Homo sapiens: one gene and its partners. The protein of the gene in region 3 purifies or fractionates together with the protein of the main gene of each other region. This does not show direct contact. Each region holds a gene or a part of one and is shown on either strand. Other genes may lie near its edges. The genes, in order: CCDC80, CRYBB3, CSN2 and PPP3R1.

Region 1 (4,390 bases), on a different chromosome or scaffold from region 3:
GTGTTCTCATTCCTTATTTCAGAGAAGCTTGGAAAAATCATTACATCTTCCACCTCAACTTCTATATGGTCCCATTATAAGCATCTGGTACTGCCTTGGCAAATTTTTAGCATAATCCTACTGTTTTCTAGACATCTGGATTGAATATGAACTGTAGAGGGGCTGTGGGTCTTTTTTTTTTTTTTTTCTGCCTTATTGGAAATCAGGTATTATGATTTGGGCATTTTCCTCACTGAATGGTAGCCGGGACCTGATTTTGGGGTGGGAGATCTTTTATTTTGTTTCTCATCTAATTCCTGGAAGGCCTCTCTTTCCTTGTGTCATGTCCCAGTTTACCCTTATGGGAAAGGCTGTAGCACTGTGAGCCAAGACTGGGAGTCGGCCATGGGATAAAAAGAATTGGCATGAGCCATGGGCTCAGTGAACCAAAAAACTCCAGCCTTGACTGACTTTCAGCTGGAAATCTATCAGATGGCCTTACTTTTCCTTAAAAATAAATCAAGCTCTGCCTACTATTCCAGACTTTTACTGGGCCTTGAAAGCAGGGGCACACATCCAACTACAGTGTGGGCCGTACTCACCAGCTGGTCCATCTTGCTAAAAGTATTTGGACATCACTGATGAACCTACAAACGCCAAGAAACTTACCTTAAGATTTTAGGCTTTCATGTAAATAAAGTTATTTATGCTTGAGCAAATTCCAATGCCTATCTGGTTTTGTCAGCACAGAGTATATTGCATGTGGGGTTTAAAATGGCCTAACACATAAAGGCATTCTTTCTTGTTAGTGATATCTAAAATGTCAGTCTAGGATAGGAATGTTGGGTGTGTATGTTTAGTGAATGGATTACAGACAAATTTTGTCAGATAGGAAAAAGTTGCTGGCTAAAGGCACTTCATTGCAGAATGAAAAAAGAAGTGGGGGGAAATGCACAGCAAGCATGTTTCTTTCTTAGCAATATTTAGAGATGAAAAATATTTTAACATTGGCATTTTATCACCAAATTTTAAGAGCTAGAATACACAGGACATTTAATAGGGCAAGGGAAGTTTTTTGATAACTTCTTTCAAAGAAAGGAGAGTTTGAGGGTAATCAAGAGAGGTAGCAAAGTTCATGGAGGTGGAATATGGCAACAAGGAGAGAGAAAATGTTGATTTCTTACTATCTAATGACTTCATAAGTCAATTTTTAAAATGAGAATGGTACGCCAGGTGCAGTGGCTCATGCTTGTAATCCCAATACTTTGGGAGGCCGACGTAGGCTGATCACTTGAGGCCAGGAGTTTGGGAACAGCCTGGCCAATATGGTGAAATCCCATCTCTACTAAAAATACAAAAATTAGCTGGGCATGGTGGCAGATGCCTGTAATTCCAGCTATTTGGGGGGTTGAGGCAGGAGAATTTCTTGAACCTGGGAGGCAGAGGTTGCAGTGAGCCAAGATTATGCCAGTACACTCTAACCTGGGTGACAAAGTGACACTCTGTCTCAAAATAAATAGATAAATAAATCAATAAATAAACAAAATGAGAATGATAGTATACAAATCAGTCTAAAATACCCTTTCTGTCTGATCCTGTTGAAGAGAATTGTTCTTTCTAGAGAAACCTCAGTCATCAGGATCCACAACAATTCAAAAATGCTGCTTTGCCTCTGGGGCAGTCCTGAAAAATAGACCCTTTTCCCCCAACTTCTCCTTTCATCAGTGGTGACAGTGCCTGGCAGCTGCCTTCTCTAGACCCTGCAACACTGAGCTGGGAGGAGAGGCAGGATGAGTGCTCAGACTTCCACACAGTGGCTGTGTGTCCCCCTCTGCTTTGATAAGTCTTTACTTATCAATCATTCTGTGCCCTAGAGACTAGAGAGCCTGTCTCCTAACCTACTCAGTCTTCTTAGTCCACTGCCCTTGCTGCCTCCAACATCAAGCATATCAGTGTCAAGACCAATCCCTGACATTCCAAGGGGGAAAAGTGCCTGATATGTCAAATGTACAAAACAAGTGTTTGAAGAATGTAGTGGAGGGATTGGCTCTTCCAATTGTAGTCATCAGATAAGGTATTGAAAATATCAGAGAATTTTGAAAAGTAGGTTGATTTAATGGAGGGACCTTGAAAAATGAGTAGGTTTTTTTTCTTTTGATAGAATAATGACTAGATCAAGGTATTTTTGTTTTTGTTTAATTTTTCAAAGAAATACTTTTTTTAAATTTTCAAAGTCAAAGCTATATAAAAAGGTGTACACAGACAAGTCTTGTATCCTTCCTGACCCCTTTACCCTGCTACTCCCTGCACCCACAGGTAATCATTTTTGTTAATTCCTTATTTATTCATTTAGTACTTTTTTAGACAAATACAAATAAATACCTATATATTTTTCTTTTTATACAAAATATAGCATATTATATATATTGTTCCACACCTTGCTTTTTTCACTTAAAATATTTCTAGGAGATCTTTCTTTATGAGTATATAGCAATCTTCCCCATTTCTTATCAAAAAATTGTGAGATTCTCTCATAGTTTAAACATTTTGTCCATGGACACTTGGACTATTTTCAATATTTTGTTCTTACACATATATCACACATACATAGAGCTATATATGAACAAGGTTACGATTAAATTGTGAAATTGTGTGTGCATCTTTCCAATACAGTCTAAGAAACAGGATTGTTAGACTAAATAGAAAATGTAGTCTGAGTGGATACTTCCTGATTTCTCTCCACACAAGTTGAATCATGTTGCAGTTCCAACAACAATGTTTAAATATGTCTATTTCCCCAGACCTCTCCAATTAATGTGTGTAATCAAACTTTTGGATGCTTTTGACCAGTGTAATATGTGAAAAATGGTATCAGTATAGGGTAGTATTGATTTGCATTTCTCATGTTGTGAGTATGATTGAACACATTTTCATGCTTAGGGAGCATTTATATTTCCTTTTTAGTGTTCTTTGCCCATTTTTCTATTGCGTTGTCATCTTTTTCATCCCAATGCATAGGTACTCTATATAAATTGGAAAAAAATTCAGACTCCCACCTCCCCTTTCTACTCCAAGATAATGACTCATTTGTTTAGGAATGAGGTCCAGGAATCTATATTTTAAAATGTTGCTCAGGTGATTCTGATTTGCTATTAGGTTTGATCTAGAGCAGAAGGCTAGGTAGAGGATAAGAGGTGAAGAGAGGGCTAGAAATGTAGTTTGGCACCTGAAATTAGATTTCTAATACCAAGATAAAGTATTCAAACTTTATATGTAAACCATGTGAAGTCACTAAATATTTCTGAATATATTTTTCAAATATATTTATAACTTTAAGATTTGATGGAGTCAATCTGTAGGACAGCAATTCACTTGGACAGGACACACTCTTTATTAATAAGACAAGTTGCTCTTTCTAGAGAAAAAGTGATCAGGAATGGCCAGGGTAGTCCCACCTATCAATTTAATCAGGTCACTCATCTCACAGTGGGGTAGTAGATAGGAAAATGACCCACTCATAGAGTAAAAGGGGAGTAAGCAGATCAATTGCAAAGTAATTTAAACTTATCCATTTCCAATCAAAAGGAAATAAGTTCCAAGCTGGAGGCCAAGGTTATCCTAACTGAAATAACCTGCCATGGACTGCTCAGCACTCCTGGCAATGTTCTTGAGAATAAAAGCAATTTAGCTTCTGCTGGCATCTACCTCCTGGCTTATGCAAAGCACAACCAAGAGAGTTTTGGCCCCTACTGACTTCTTGAAAAGAATCGTTATATTTTAAATGCCTTACAAATATGTTTTATTTAAAAGACCTAATGCATGCAAAACCAATTTTAGAAAAAAATATATATGAATGTGTTTTCTCAAATTACATTAGACTGTGTTGCGGGTTCACAAGATCAAAGGAAAGTGTGAAGGTTTTATGGTGGGTTTTCTACACAGTCCCAGAATCACTCACCTTATCTATACCTTATTACTGTCTTTTTCATATATCTTTCTTATGGGAGAGTTCTAGTGATTACCAAATCTTTACTGAATGCTGGGGTTGTATGCTAGGAACTGTGCCAGCCTGAAAGGATGTAAAAGGTGACCAAAACTCAGTCTCTATTGTTGAATTACTCATATCTAGGGGGAAGACAGATATGTAAACAACTGGTTGCAATGCAAGGTGATTAGCATTATTACAGAAGAATGCCAAAATGTTGAGTGCACAAGTGAGGTGAAGACAGGTTTCAGAGACAATAAGAAGTACTCATGTGGACAGCATTCCAGGAAGAGAGGGCACATTTCTAGAGACCGAAAATAGGGGGCTGGAGCATAACATGTGGAGGAAGAGTTAATAGATAAGTTTATACTGCCATAAATGATCTTGTATGCTATGACAAGGATTTAGATTTTCTCCTCTGGGACA
Region 2 (3,391 bases), on a different chromosome or scaffold from region 3:
GTTTGTGTTTCCAGGTGGGTGAGAGAGGCAAAACCTTGGTCTGCCTTTGCAGCCCTTCTCTTCCTAGGCTTGGGGCAGGCAGAGGTCTTCCCCGAGACTGCAAACAGGTGTTTTCATTTTTTTAAGGGGGAAATTTCCTATTAAGGAAAATACAGATTTCTGACCTCTCTTGAAAAAATTGGAACTGGGACCTCATTCCCTCATCGCCAGAAGCAGCTTCATTTCCCCACCGACCTCTCGGGTTATTTCAGTCCGCTGGACTCCCCACCTGGCTCCTGCTGGACATCAGAGTTGCAATCACTAGTTTAATTGGTCTCATTGAAGTTCCTGAAGGCGTTTCCCTCCATGACCATTAGAGGGCAGTGCAGGCCCACCTCAGTGCCAGCTCCAGGCTGGAGAGATGCAGAAAGCAGAGGGTACCTCCCTCTAATGCCCAAAGGAGGGGCAGAGGCTGGAGCTGGGAGCCTAGCAGAGGTGGGATGTTTAGGACTCTGCTCTTCTAGGTGATCTTGTACGAACTAGAGAACTTCCAAGGCAAACGCTGCGAGCTCTCGGCCGAGTGCCCCAGCCTGACCGACAGCCTGCTGGAGAAGGTGGGCTCCATCCAAGTGGAGTCCGGGCCGTGAGTACCTAGACCCCCAGTCCCTCGCCACAGCCCTGAGCCTTCTGGGAGTGTGGAGGCCCCAGTCTGAGCTCTAGATCTGTTGTGGGGCTTTTGACAGCTCCCCTGCCTTCTCTGGCCTCGTTTTCCGCATCTGTAAAATGAGAGTTGAAGAATTCTCTAGAATCCTAGATGTCTGCAGAAAATCCCAGGATACCTGAGGTTGGAAGAACAGCAAGGTCAACCTAGCACCTAACTCAGTGACTGGAACATGGGATTTAATATTTATAATTTTAATAATAATTGTAACACCTAAAATTTAACATGCATTATGTCATTGAATCGTCATGACCCTGTGACAGAGGTATCATTCTTATTCCCACTTTATAGATGGGGAAACTGAGGCCAAAGTTGGTAAGTGTCCCATCCATGTCCACAAGGCAGGCAGGTCTCCCAGCTGGGCCCTGAATTCCCGCCTTTGGATTGCAAGTCCAGGCTCTGGCACTAACCATCTGGGTGATCTTCGGCAAGTTGCTTCACACACCAGGCCTCTGTTTTCTCATCTGTTGAATGGGGATAACAATGGTACGTACTTCAGAGAGAGTTTTTATGAAAATGAATGGAATGATGCAAATAAATACATATTAATAACAATACAATACAAAGAAGAGGAAAAGGAAGAGGAAGAAGTCACTGTCACCTATGGAATACTTACTGTGTACCGGGCATTGTGCTAAAGACTTTTCTGGGTACCTTGCACAGAGGCTAGATTCTCAATAACATACCCTAGGATGGTTTTCTGGCCCAGAGTCTCAGACAGTTCCCGGTATGTCCTAGCAGCTCCTTTAATTACAGGTCCAGGAATTAGCAGTAGGGTTGGAGGGAGGGTACAAGGTTCAAGGTCAGCAGCTCTTGGACACTTCTCTCACTAAACTTGAATCCTTCCTCAGCTGCAGCAAAGGTGACCCAGCCAAGCCTCTTCCTCCCTCAGGTGGCTGGCATTTGAGTCCAGGGCCTTCCGCGGGGAGCAGTTTGTTCTGGAGAAGGGGGATTATCCTCGCTGGGATGCCTGGTCCAACAGCCGTGATAGTGACAGCCTTCTGTCCCTCCGGCCTCTGAATATTGTGAGTGTGGTTCCTGCTCACTTCTGGGTGTTCCTGGAAGCAGGGTGCACTGAGAGCTGGTCAGGCAGCTCATTGCACAAGCTGGGCTGAGGGTTTGGCCCATATGGACCTGGCCTGGGAAGGGCCCTCATGTTTCTGATTTGAACAATTGTGTGGGACAAGAAGTGGGATATTGAAGGGACATTCGGTTGGGGATTGAGACACCAGGACTCACATCTTGAATTAAACCAGCATAGCACTGGGACTTTTCTTTGTAACCGTACTAAAACGATGAGCCACATGGCCCAGTCTCAAATCAGTATTGTTATCAAAGAAATGCAGTCCAGGAAATAACTTCAGAAAGTAGCCAAAATACTTTAAGTTCTCCACTTGTGTTTTTCTAGCACCTGAAAGGGACACAGTCCACAGTGACACTTTTTATTTATTTGTTTATTTATTTATTTTTCGAGACAGACTCCTGCTCTGTCACCCATGCTGGAGTGCAGTCTTTCTCTCTCTCTCTTTTTAAACATTTTTATTTATGTATTTTTATTTCATTTTGAGTTGCAGTCTCGCTCTGTCACCCAGGCTGGAGTGCAGTGGCATGATCTCTGCTCACTGCAACCTCTGCCTCCTGGGTTCAAGTGATTCTCCTGCCTCAGCCTCCTGAGTAGCTGGGACTGAAGGCACATGCCACCACGCTGGGCTAATTTTTGTATTTTTAGTAGAGGTGGCGTTTTGCCATGTTGGCAAAGCTGGTCTTGAACTTCTGGCCTCAAGTGATCTGCCTGCCTCGGCCTCCCAAAGTACTGGGATTACAGGCCTGAGCCACCACGCCCGGCCCACAGTGACACTTTAAACACCACCCTTCTCCCTCCCCTGCTTCACTCACACCCCGCAGCTGCTCCAGCCCTTTCTCTTTGTCACATAACTGAGTCCTCCTTAGAGGGCAGTGGAAGAGGGGAAACTGGGAAGATTAAACCGGCATCTGGTTAGGAAAGAGGGAAAGCTCATATGTTGATACTTTTGATCTCTGTCCACCCTCTCCTGGCCTCAGTTTCTCTATCATTTAAATGATGGGATTGAACAAGATCTGGAAATTCCTTTTCAGTTTTATAATCTACGGCTCTAGGTTCCTAAATCAACCAGCTTTGGAGGAATCTCCCCGTCCCTCCTACAGTGAATTTGGGGGTGGAGGCATCTCCTGAGGCCCTTCCCTCCTGCAGCAGGTTTGGGGGTGGGTGTTATTTTGTGGTGACCTGTTGATTCTTTCCGGCATCTGGAGCCTCCTTGACCTCTGTTCTGGATATGGGAGCAGCCGCTCACCCCACGATATTGCCCTCAGGATAGTCCACATCACAAGCTGCATCTGTTTGAGAACCCAGCTTTCAGTGGCCGCAAGATGGAGATAGTGGATGATGACGTGCCCAGCCTGTGGGCTCATGGCTTCCAGGACCGTGTGGCGAGTGTCCGTGCCATCAACGGGACGTAAGGGACCCAACCCTCACCCTTGCCCCATCTTCTGGTCAGCCATGCCTCTGGCTCCAAACAGAATCAGTGCCCATAGTTTCTTATTATTTTATTTATTTATTTATTTATTTTTGAGACGGAGTCTTGCTCTGTCGCCCAGGCTGGAGTGCAGTGGCGCGATCTCAGCTCACTGCAAGCTCCGCCTCCCGGGTTCATG
Region 3 (4,390 bases):
GTAGGTAGGCAGACGTGCAAAAAGGACACATTTTATAATTACAATAGCCACTTTAGTAAATAAGCGAGATTTAGTGTAGTCCTAAATTTACCTGAGAGAGTCAGGTAGATATTTATTCTTACACCACTCTTCTTGGGTGTGTGATCACTTGATAAGTAAATGGTACATCAATAGATTCTGTCTCTTCAGAAAGGTTATATGATCCTTAAGGGAAGTGTTTAACTCTTATGATTCATTTGAAGTGATCATAATGTATCAATTGTTATTAGAATATATTTTCAATGAGTATTTCTTTTTTTAAAAATCAGATGGGGTTTTAGATATCATTTGTTGTCAGGGAATGAGCATGGTGGTAGAGAGAAATTAGCATCTATTAATTGCTTTTTTTTGTACCATGTCCTTCTTGACTGCATTCATCTGACTTTCTTTTACATAACAAGCTCATATAGAACAGTTTAATACATAAGTTTAATGATTATACAAAGTTATTAATGATATTATCAAAGAATTAATGCCTTTATTTCCTGATTTATATTGCAAAGTAAGAATTGTTAAAACTAAACCTAATTTTATTTTATATTTTTCTGTAGGAATCTATTACAGAATACAAGGTAAATTTTCACATTTAAAATGTACACATTTTCAAAATTTCCTCCTTTTAATCTTTACAGATGGTAACATATCTTTATATATGATATATCTTTAGCAGAAAGTTGAGAAGGTTAAACATGAGGACCAGCAGCAAGGAGAGGTAATTTGTTAATGATAAGTATATGTTTAAAATTATTATAAAGTATAATACATACAAAAATATTTATAATGTGTATGTTGATTCTAAAGAATGATAATAAAATAAATGCCATATACCCACCAACCACTTTAAAAATTAAACATTGATAAAGTCAATATATTTTCTAGGATATGCATGCATTTTTAAACTCATAATTAATTTCTAGAATACAGACTAAATACATAATGATATTACTAATGGTATATCTGTTTTCAACAAGTACACATTGGTGGGAACATTTCCAGGTTGGGAACTATGATCCTCTTATTTCCAAGGTGGATATGGTAATGAAAAGGTGTATACGGCTGGTAAAAAAACCTATGTAAAATTTGTCCCATATTGCCTTTATTCCCATATGGACAACACAAAATCCTGTATTTCATTAAATTACATTTATGGTGATATGTTTACCCAATTATAATTTTCAATTGCTTTGTGTACCAATGAATTGTTTGGAGTCACATAAAATATTTCTAAAATCAAATTTAAACAAAAAAATTGATGTCTCTTGAAAGACTCAAGAGACTATCTTCTCCCAAGGGAAGGAATGTAAGAATTTGGCCGGTGTTAAATTACTTCCTGAGATTAGCCACAAATTAAGACTGATTTTCTTTTTCATCAAACCAAAACAAAACAAAAATAAACCTTGGAATTGTCCCTCTAAGTCTTTTTAAACTGATCTCTTTTCACTGTATGAAAACAATTTGGTCTACTATTGGCACAACTGTGTTGAAAAGTAAATTCTCTCTGAAGACCAAAGTGTACAGCTACAGCTATCCAGGCAATTCAGGAAAATGTTAAAAAAAGTGTTTCTGAAATATCCAAACATTGATTTCACTTTGGCCTGTGGAGTTACCCATGAAGTGAGTGGATTAAAATTTTTCAACAAACAGTTTACTCATTTTTCTTCGCATGACTCAAGATACTTTCTTAACCAAAATAAGTGAAATATTTTCTCCTCTCTTTTTACTCATTTATCATTGTCTAAAAGAGAGAAATGAATTCATTATGAATGGCAATTATAGCTTAATCAAGGACTCAAAGATTCTTTTTCCTTCTTTCCAGGATGAACACCAGGATAAAATCTACCCCTCTTTCCAGCCACAGCCTCTGATCTATCCATTCGTTGAACCTATCCCCTATGGTTTTCTTCCACAAAACATTCTGCCTCTTGCTCAGCCTGCTGTGGTGCTGCCTGTCCCTCAGCCTGAAATAATGGAAGTCCCTAAAGCTAAAGACACTGTCTACACTAAGGGCAGAGTGATGCCTGTCCTTAAATCTCCAACGATACCCTTTTTTGACCCTCAAATCCCAAAACTCACTGATCTTGAAAATCTGCATCTTCCTCTGCCTCTGCTCCAGCCCTTGATGCAGCAGGTCCCTCAGCCTATTCCTCAGACTCTTGCACTTCCCCCTCAGCCCCTGTGGTCTGTTCCTCAGCCCAAAGTCCTGCCTATCCCCCAGCAAGTGGTGCCCTACCCTCAGAGAGCTGTGCCTGTTCAAGCCCTTCTGCTCAACCAAGAACTTCTACTTAACCCCACCCACCAGATCTACCCTGTGACTCAGCCACTTGCCCCAGTTCATAACCCCATTAGTGTAAGTCCAAATTTACTGGCTTTGCTGTTTCATTCAAGATGTGTATGTGATGGTAGAATAAAAGAATAAATGTAGAGTAAATGAATTAAAAAAACAGTTTAGATAAGTGATTCTTTTATTATTATACTTTAAGTTTTAGGGTACATGTGCACAACATGCAGGTTAGTTACATATGTATACATGTGCCATGTTGGTGTGCTGCACCCATTAACTCGTCATTTAACATTAGGTATATCTCCTAATGCTATCCCTACCCCCTACCCCCACCCCACGACAGGTCCAGGTGTGTGATGTTCCCCTTCCTGTGTCCATGTGTTCTCATAGATAAGTGATTCTTAATGCTTACCTATACAATAGAATCACCTGGAGAACTTTTCCCCACAAATCCCAATGCCTAAGCTTACCCAGAGATTCTGATATAATTGTTCTAGTTTTTTGTGTAGAGGAAACTGAGTGTTGAGAAAAAAACTATTGCATGAATTCTGGTTTAATTAGTCTGTTGAGAATTCTGATTTAGATAAAGTAATTAAGGCTTACAAAAGCCGGAATTAAATTTAATAATATGATTGAATTTGGAAAAAAAAGCTAAAAAATGTTCTGTCATTTTCCTTGTGCACATCTCTTTTACACAAGCCTTACTTCACATCTTGTTTTTGCTATAAGTATATATGAAGGCAAAAGACTGAGATGCTTATTTCACTACTTACAACATTCTTAAGGCAAGTTTTCTTACTAAGAGGTTATTTATTTATTTATTTATTTATTTATTTTACACAAGCCTTACTTCACATCTGGTTTTTGCTGTAAATATATATGAAGGCAAAAGACGGAGATGCTTATTTCACTACTTACAACATTCTTAAGGCAAGTTTTCTTACTAAGAGGTTATTTATTTATTTGTATCTGTTTATTTTTAAGGTCTAAGAAGATTTCAAAGTTAATTTTCCCTCCTTATTTTTGGTAAGTTTTGGGAGTTTGGAGATTTAATTGATCATTTTTATACATGATGTCTTTTTACATTTAATTCTCCTAGAGAAGTCCAATACAGTGAAAATTTCATACATACAAGAACTTTTTTTATTAATTATCAATTTAATGGTTGACTATCATTTACTGACCTGAAACTATCTATCTTTTGCATTTCAAATAACTTTAATTTTATTTATGTACTATTGACAGATTTGACTGGCTTGCTTTCAAGGGCCTATATACTTACATTTGATTATCACTATTTTTAGGAAAGACAGAATATATACTTATTTTACTTTTATGGAAATACATTTGAGCTTTTGTCAAAAGCCTATTTGCATTTTTATTTCTAACCTAGCCTTCATAAAATTTGTATTTACTTTACTTAAAATTATCTTTTAATTCATGAGTTAAAATTACTCCAAGTGTAAAGGTTAAAAAGAGGAGAGAACAGCATTGCAATTCTAAGATATAAAGCCTTTTGGGATTATGAAATACCAGACATTTCACTGAAACAATTTCAAGTTCACTAATATTTGATGAACTTTGGTGAAGTTTGGTGAACAAACTTTACATGCCTCCAAACCGCAACAGAATGCATTTGCAATACAATTTCTTTTGTGAATTAGTCACACCAAAGTTAAAAGTGAAGAGAGTTGAATAGTTACGTGTTATAACATAACTAATTATATATTTGCTCTCTATTCCACAGAATTGACTGAGACTGGAAATATGATGCCTTTTCCGTCTTTGTATCACGTTACCCCAAATTAAGTATGTTTGAATGAGTTTATATGGAAAAAATGAACTTTGTCCCTTTATTTATTTTATATATTATGTCATTCATTTAATTTGAAATTTGACTCATGAACTATTTACATTTTCCAAATCTTAATTCAACTAGTACCACAGAAGTTCAATACTCATTTGGAAATGCTACAAACATATCAAACATATGTATACAAATTGTTTCTGGAATTGTGCTTATTTTTATTTCTTTAAGAATCTATTTCCTTTCCAGTCATTTCAATAAAT
Region 4 (4,390 bases), on a different chromosome or scaffold from region 3:
GATTTCTTAGTAGCAGTGTGGGAAACCCACAAGAACATGGAGCATTTTGCCTGTGCAATTCTGAGGGACAGTTATTTCCAACTTAAAATTCTCTATACACTCAAATGGTAGTAGAAAGACACTTTTAGGTATGTAAGGCCTTCTCATTTTGGAAACTACTGGAGGATGTGCTCCCACTGCAATAAGGTCATAAATCAAACAAGTAGAGAGTGTAGGATCCAGGAAGCAGAGGGTCCAGCATGGTGAGAGGGAGGATCCCCAATATGATGAAGAGCGCCAGAGATGACAGGCCTGGAGACAAAAAGTCTAGAGTGCAGCAGGTTGGAAGGCTCAAAGAGTGCTTTCAAGACAATAAAATTGATAGAATTACATAATATTTTTAGTTGAATGTATTTAGAACAAAAGTTAGGGGTTGAATTATAATTACATAGAACACCCAGCAAAGGAATTAACTGTGTACCAAACAAATGTGCAGGAAAGAAAAAGTAATCATAATACATAGTTCTGTTTATCTGTATTGTATAGTTATAACAATGAAAAATGCTGATTTTTTTTTTTTTTTTGAGAGGGAGTGTTGCCTCAGTTTGTTGCCCAGGCTGGAGTCATGCCGCCTAATCTTTTTTTTTTTTTTTTTTAAGTATTAGAGACCTGGTTTCACCATGTTGGTCAGGCCGGTCTTGAACTCCTGACCTCAAGTGATCTGCCCACCTCAGCCTCCCAAAGTGCTGGGATTACAGGCGTGAGACACCGCACCTGGCTGAAAAATGCTGAATTTCTGATGAAAATAAAGATAAAGCCATTGGAATGGTACAGAGTTTGTGAAGTGTGTAGGGTAGGAGATAGAGGGAAGAGAAGTATGTGAAAGCTAAAAATCTTAAGAGACCTGGAGGTAAATAGTGCAAGTCAGCTGAAAACTTTAAATTATTGCCACTGCATAAAAGCAAATAGAGAATGAGGGCAGGGTGACAAACTGCTTTTTTTCCCACAGCAGGAGTTGTAGAATTCGTTGGCACTTTATGCTTTAGTTTTCAAATAAAGGGACTATTTTTTTAGTTTGAATTTAAAAATAATACAGATAACAAATACACATAACAACATGGATTAATCTCACAAGCATAAAATTGAGAGAAGCTAGACACGAAAGAGATTCCATTTATAAAATGTACAGAAACAGAAAATAGTAGCTACTGGTCGTGTGTGTGTGGTGGGGGGAGGGGGGGGTTGGAGGAGGGGAGATGTCTGGTGACTGGAAGATCTGGGTGCTGGTTATTGGGTGTTTACTTTGTGAAAATTCATCAAACTGTGGACATTTATGACCTATGCATTCTCTTTATGTAGATTAAATGTAATAAAACATTCCCCCCAAATGATACAGATACTACACTTACACATTACCATGTCAGTATTCACTGAGATGTGTATGACTACATGTATTTGACTCTACAGAAAAATAATATACAGACATGTTTATTCACTTGGTACTTTTTAAATTGTCTAGAACAGACTGAGAGTGACACGCATATTTGATTGTGAGGACAGTTTTTGTCATAATATCTGGTTATCGTGTGATATTAAACTACTGAAGTAGGGGCCAGCAAACTACAGAGCAAACCAGATCCTGCCCATAGCCTGTTTATGTCTGTCTTTGAACTAAGAATCGTTTTTACCTGAAGTGTTGTTTTGAAAAAAAAAAAAAAAGGAAAATGTGAAAGAAACTACATGTAGCCTGCAAGACTGGCCCTTGTACAAGAACACCCAAAAAGTAATGCCTGTTATCCTAGGAGAAAGAAACCATGAAAATTCTAACTGGAGGTCACTCAAGTTTTGTTGTTTTGGTTTTTTGTGTGTCTTTAAATTCACCTTCTGAATATAGCTAAAGTAATTTTTTTTTTTTTTTTTTGAGATGGAGTCTCGCTCTGTTGCCCAGTCTGGAGTGCAGTGGCGCGATATAGGCTCACTGCAGCCTCCAACTCCCGGGTTCAAGCGATTCTCCTGCATCAGCCTGCCCAGTAGCTGGGACTAGAGGCACACGCCACCACACCCGGCTAAGTTTTTGTATTTTTTTAGTAGAGACAAGGTTTCACCGTGTGTTAGCCAGGATGGTCTCGATCTCCTGACCTTGTGATCCACCTGCCTTGGCCTTCCAAAGTGCTGGGATTACAGGTGTGAGCCACCACGCCCAGCCCCCTAGTAATATTTTTTAAAATTTGATGAAGTAGTTAGACCACGAATGAGGAGTTTCTCAGACACTGTGAAGCTTGATTTGTTCCTGTCTGTTGCAGGTTGTAGGTGGCCTAGATATCCACAAAAAGATGGTGGTAGATGTGTGACTCTTATCAGAGAGTACCACCCAACACTTTTGCTTTCTTCTCCATCTCTGAAGATCTGCTCAAGACGTCCAGCAATGCTCTCTGTGTATTTAAATGGAAGTATTTTTCTCTGTGAAGCCACATTTTCCAACATGAGCCTCATGAAGCCAACTAAGTGTTATTGAACTGTAATTCTCTCAATAACTCAGTGTAGCACTTTAAAGTCTGAAGGACAGCAACATGAAAAGAGCATATCAATGTGGTGGAGAAAGGGAAGGGGTTGGCTTTTTAATTTATTTTTCTTCATCTTTTATAACAAGAAAGTATCTATATATACATATGTAAATATTTATATATAGATATATGTAGCTTTCTATATATGTAGTAGGTTGGCTTTAATTTAATATACTTGATTCAGAAACAAAACAATAGAGTACAAAAGTGCCAAGCAGAACATAAAACATCCTTACTTTTATTTCACACAGTTTTATATATAGATAGAAGACTGTACAATTTGAGCCGGGTGTTAGGCCAGCTATTTTCCTTTTCCTGTGCTTTCTCCTTTGAGAGATTGACAAAGCATTTGTTAACGTCCTATTATTTACCTTAATTACATTTTTGTAACAAAGGAGTCTGTAACTTTATTTATACTTATGAATATATCCAGGGACTACTTCTCATTGCTGAGCAGCTTTTAATACACCTCTGCTTGAGGAGAAAGTCTAGTTCATTGCTACTGCCAAGAGCTAGTTCTTGTGTTCATATAGTAACTGCACAGGGCTTATAGCTGCTTCATTCTGCTACTTTGTAACTAGGAGCCATTGCATTTATTAAATGTCCCTCAGTAACGTTAAGTGCTAGTTGTGATTTTATACATAAAGGCCAGAAGCTGTCTGAGGCAATCATGATTGATTGTATGTATCACTTACTGAAGAATACCTGAAGTGATCATGTAACTACTTATAAGGGATATCCATTTGTTTGATTACATGGGTAAATAATTTGTCATTAAACTTGTGTTTGAATCATGAATTCCCTTGTTTCAAAAGACTTGCAGCTAATCTAAAAAACTGGTGATATTTAATATGCATGTATGTATCTAAACACCCACATATATTTGTGGTTTAAGTGTGAGAAATCTTGCTAATCTATATGCCACAGAAGAGCAAAATTGTATCCAAATTTATGCCACTTAAATTTCTTTACCACGAGGGATAGAGCATGCATACTGGTTTTTTTTTCTTGATTTGCCCATATAATTGGTAATGGATAACTTAATAAATTTGTGTGATATAAAAGTAGTGTATCATGTTCTACTGTTTGATCTTATCCCTTCCCATTTCTGCAAAGGTACTGTTAGCTGGAAGAAAAACATTTTGGTTAGCTTTGTATGACAGTAGTCTTTCCCTTTATAGTTTCTCTATAAAAACTGGTTTTAAAATCAGTGGAAAAGGGCAGGTTGAATCAAGGTGAATCAATCTGAAATTGAGCACACCTGCCTGCCATCGCTGTTCCTTCAACTGAGTGCTGCACATCATGGGCTCTGTCTGTGAGAGAAAAATCCCGGTGCTTGGTGTCCTTGCATGACATGGAGTTTTGCATGTAGATCAATTTAAAATGTACCTCTTGTTTACATAATTTGCATAATTTTAAAAGATAATGTTGCCAAACTTTGGAAATGTTAATGTTCAGACTGAAAATCTCCACTACATGTAACTTTCTTCCTCTGGATCAGTGGCATGGCTTATAATCCCAGCCAGTGGTTTGAACTGTTCCAGTGTCAACTGCCATGTGCTCTGCTTCAAGGGGGAACTAGCCTTTTGTGAATTTTTTGTACATAAGTATTTGTTACAAATATTTTAGCAAATGCTTTCTATTTCTCTTGCTTGTGCATATCTTGGCTGGCGTTACAGAAAAATAGTGTAAACATTATTTCCTTACCGGGGAATGAGGGTTTTTTCTTTTTCTTTTTTTTTTTTTTTTTTTTTAGTTTGTGTGTGGGGGTGGGTAAGGGAGGGGATGGTTTATGTTGAATGTTTAGTTTTTCTTCTGCATGATACGTCATGTTGTGGGATCTTTAG

What was found.
Region 1: the proteins of CSN2 (region 3) and CCDC80 purify together in Homo sapiens (co-immunoprecipitation; one large-scale study listed by IntAct). This does not show direct contact.
Region 2: the proteins of CSN2 (region 3) and CRYBB3 purify together in Homo sapiens (co-immunoprecipitation; 2 studies listed by BioGRID and IntAct, with this or other methods). This does not show direct contact.
Region 4: the proteins of CSN2 (region 3) and PPP3R1 purify together in Homo sapiens (affinity purification with mass spectrometry; one large-scale study listed by BioGRID and IntAct). This does not show direct contact.

The regions. Positions count from the first base shown.
Region 1 is NC_000003.12:112,623,664-112,628,053, reverse strand, and holds part of CCDC80 (coiled-coil domain-containing protein 80 precursor), read left to right. Parts: intron 1-4,390. UniProt on the Homo sapiens protein: Promotes cell adhesion and matrix assembly.
Region 2 is NC_000022.11:25,202,171-25,205,561, forward strand, and holds part of CRYBB3 (beta-crystallin B3), read left to right. Parts: intron 1-503; coding exon 504-622; intron 623-1,592; coding exon 1,593-1,725; intron 1,726-3,049; coding exon 3,050-3,192; intron 3,193-3,391. UniProt on the Homo sapiens protein: Crystallins are the dominant structural components of the vertebrate eye lens.
Region 3 is NC_000004.12:69,955,270-69,959,659, reverse strand, and holds part of CSN2 (beta-casein isoform 1 precursor), read left to right. Parts: intron 1-590; coding exon 591-611; intron 612-706; coding exon 707-751; intron 752-1,855; coding exon 1,856-2,386; intron 2,387-3,304; coding exon 3,305-3,310; 3' UTR 3,311-3,346; intron 3,347-4,067; 3' UTR 4,068-4,390. UniProt on the Homo sapiens protein: Important role in determination of the surface properties of the casein micelles.
Region 4 is NC_000002.12:68,178,903-68,183,292, reverse strand, and holds part of PPP3R1 (calcineurin subunit B type 1), read left to right. Parts: intron 1-2,282; coding exon 2,283-2,330; 3' UTR 2,331-4,390. UniProt on the Homo sapiens protein: Regulatory subunit of calcineurin, a calcium-dependent, calmodulin stimulated protein phosphatase. Confers calcium sensitivity.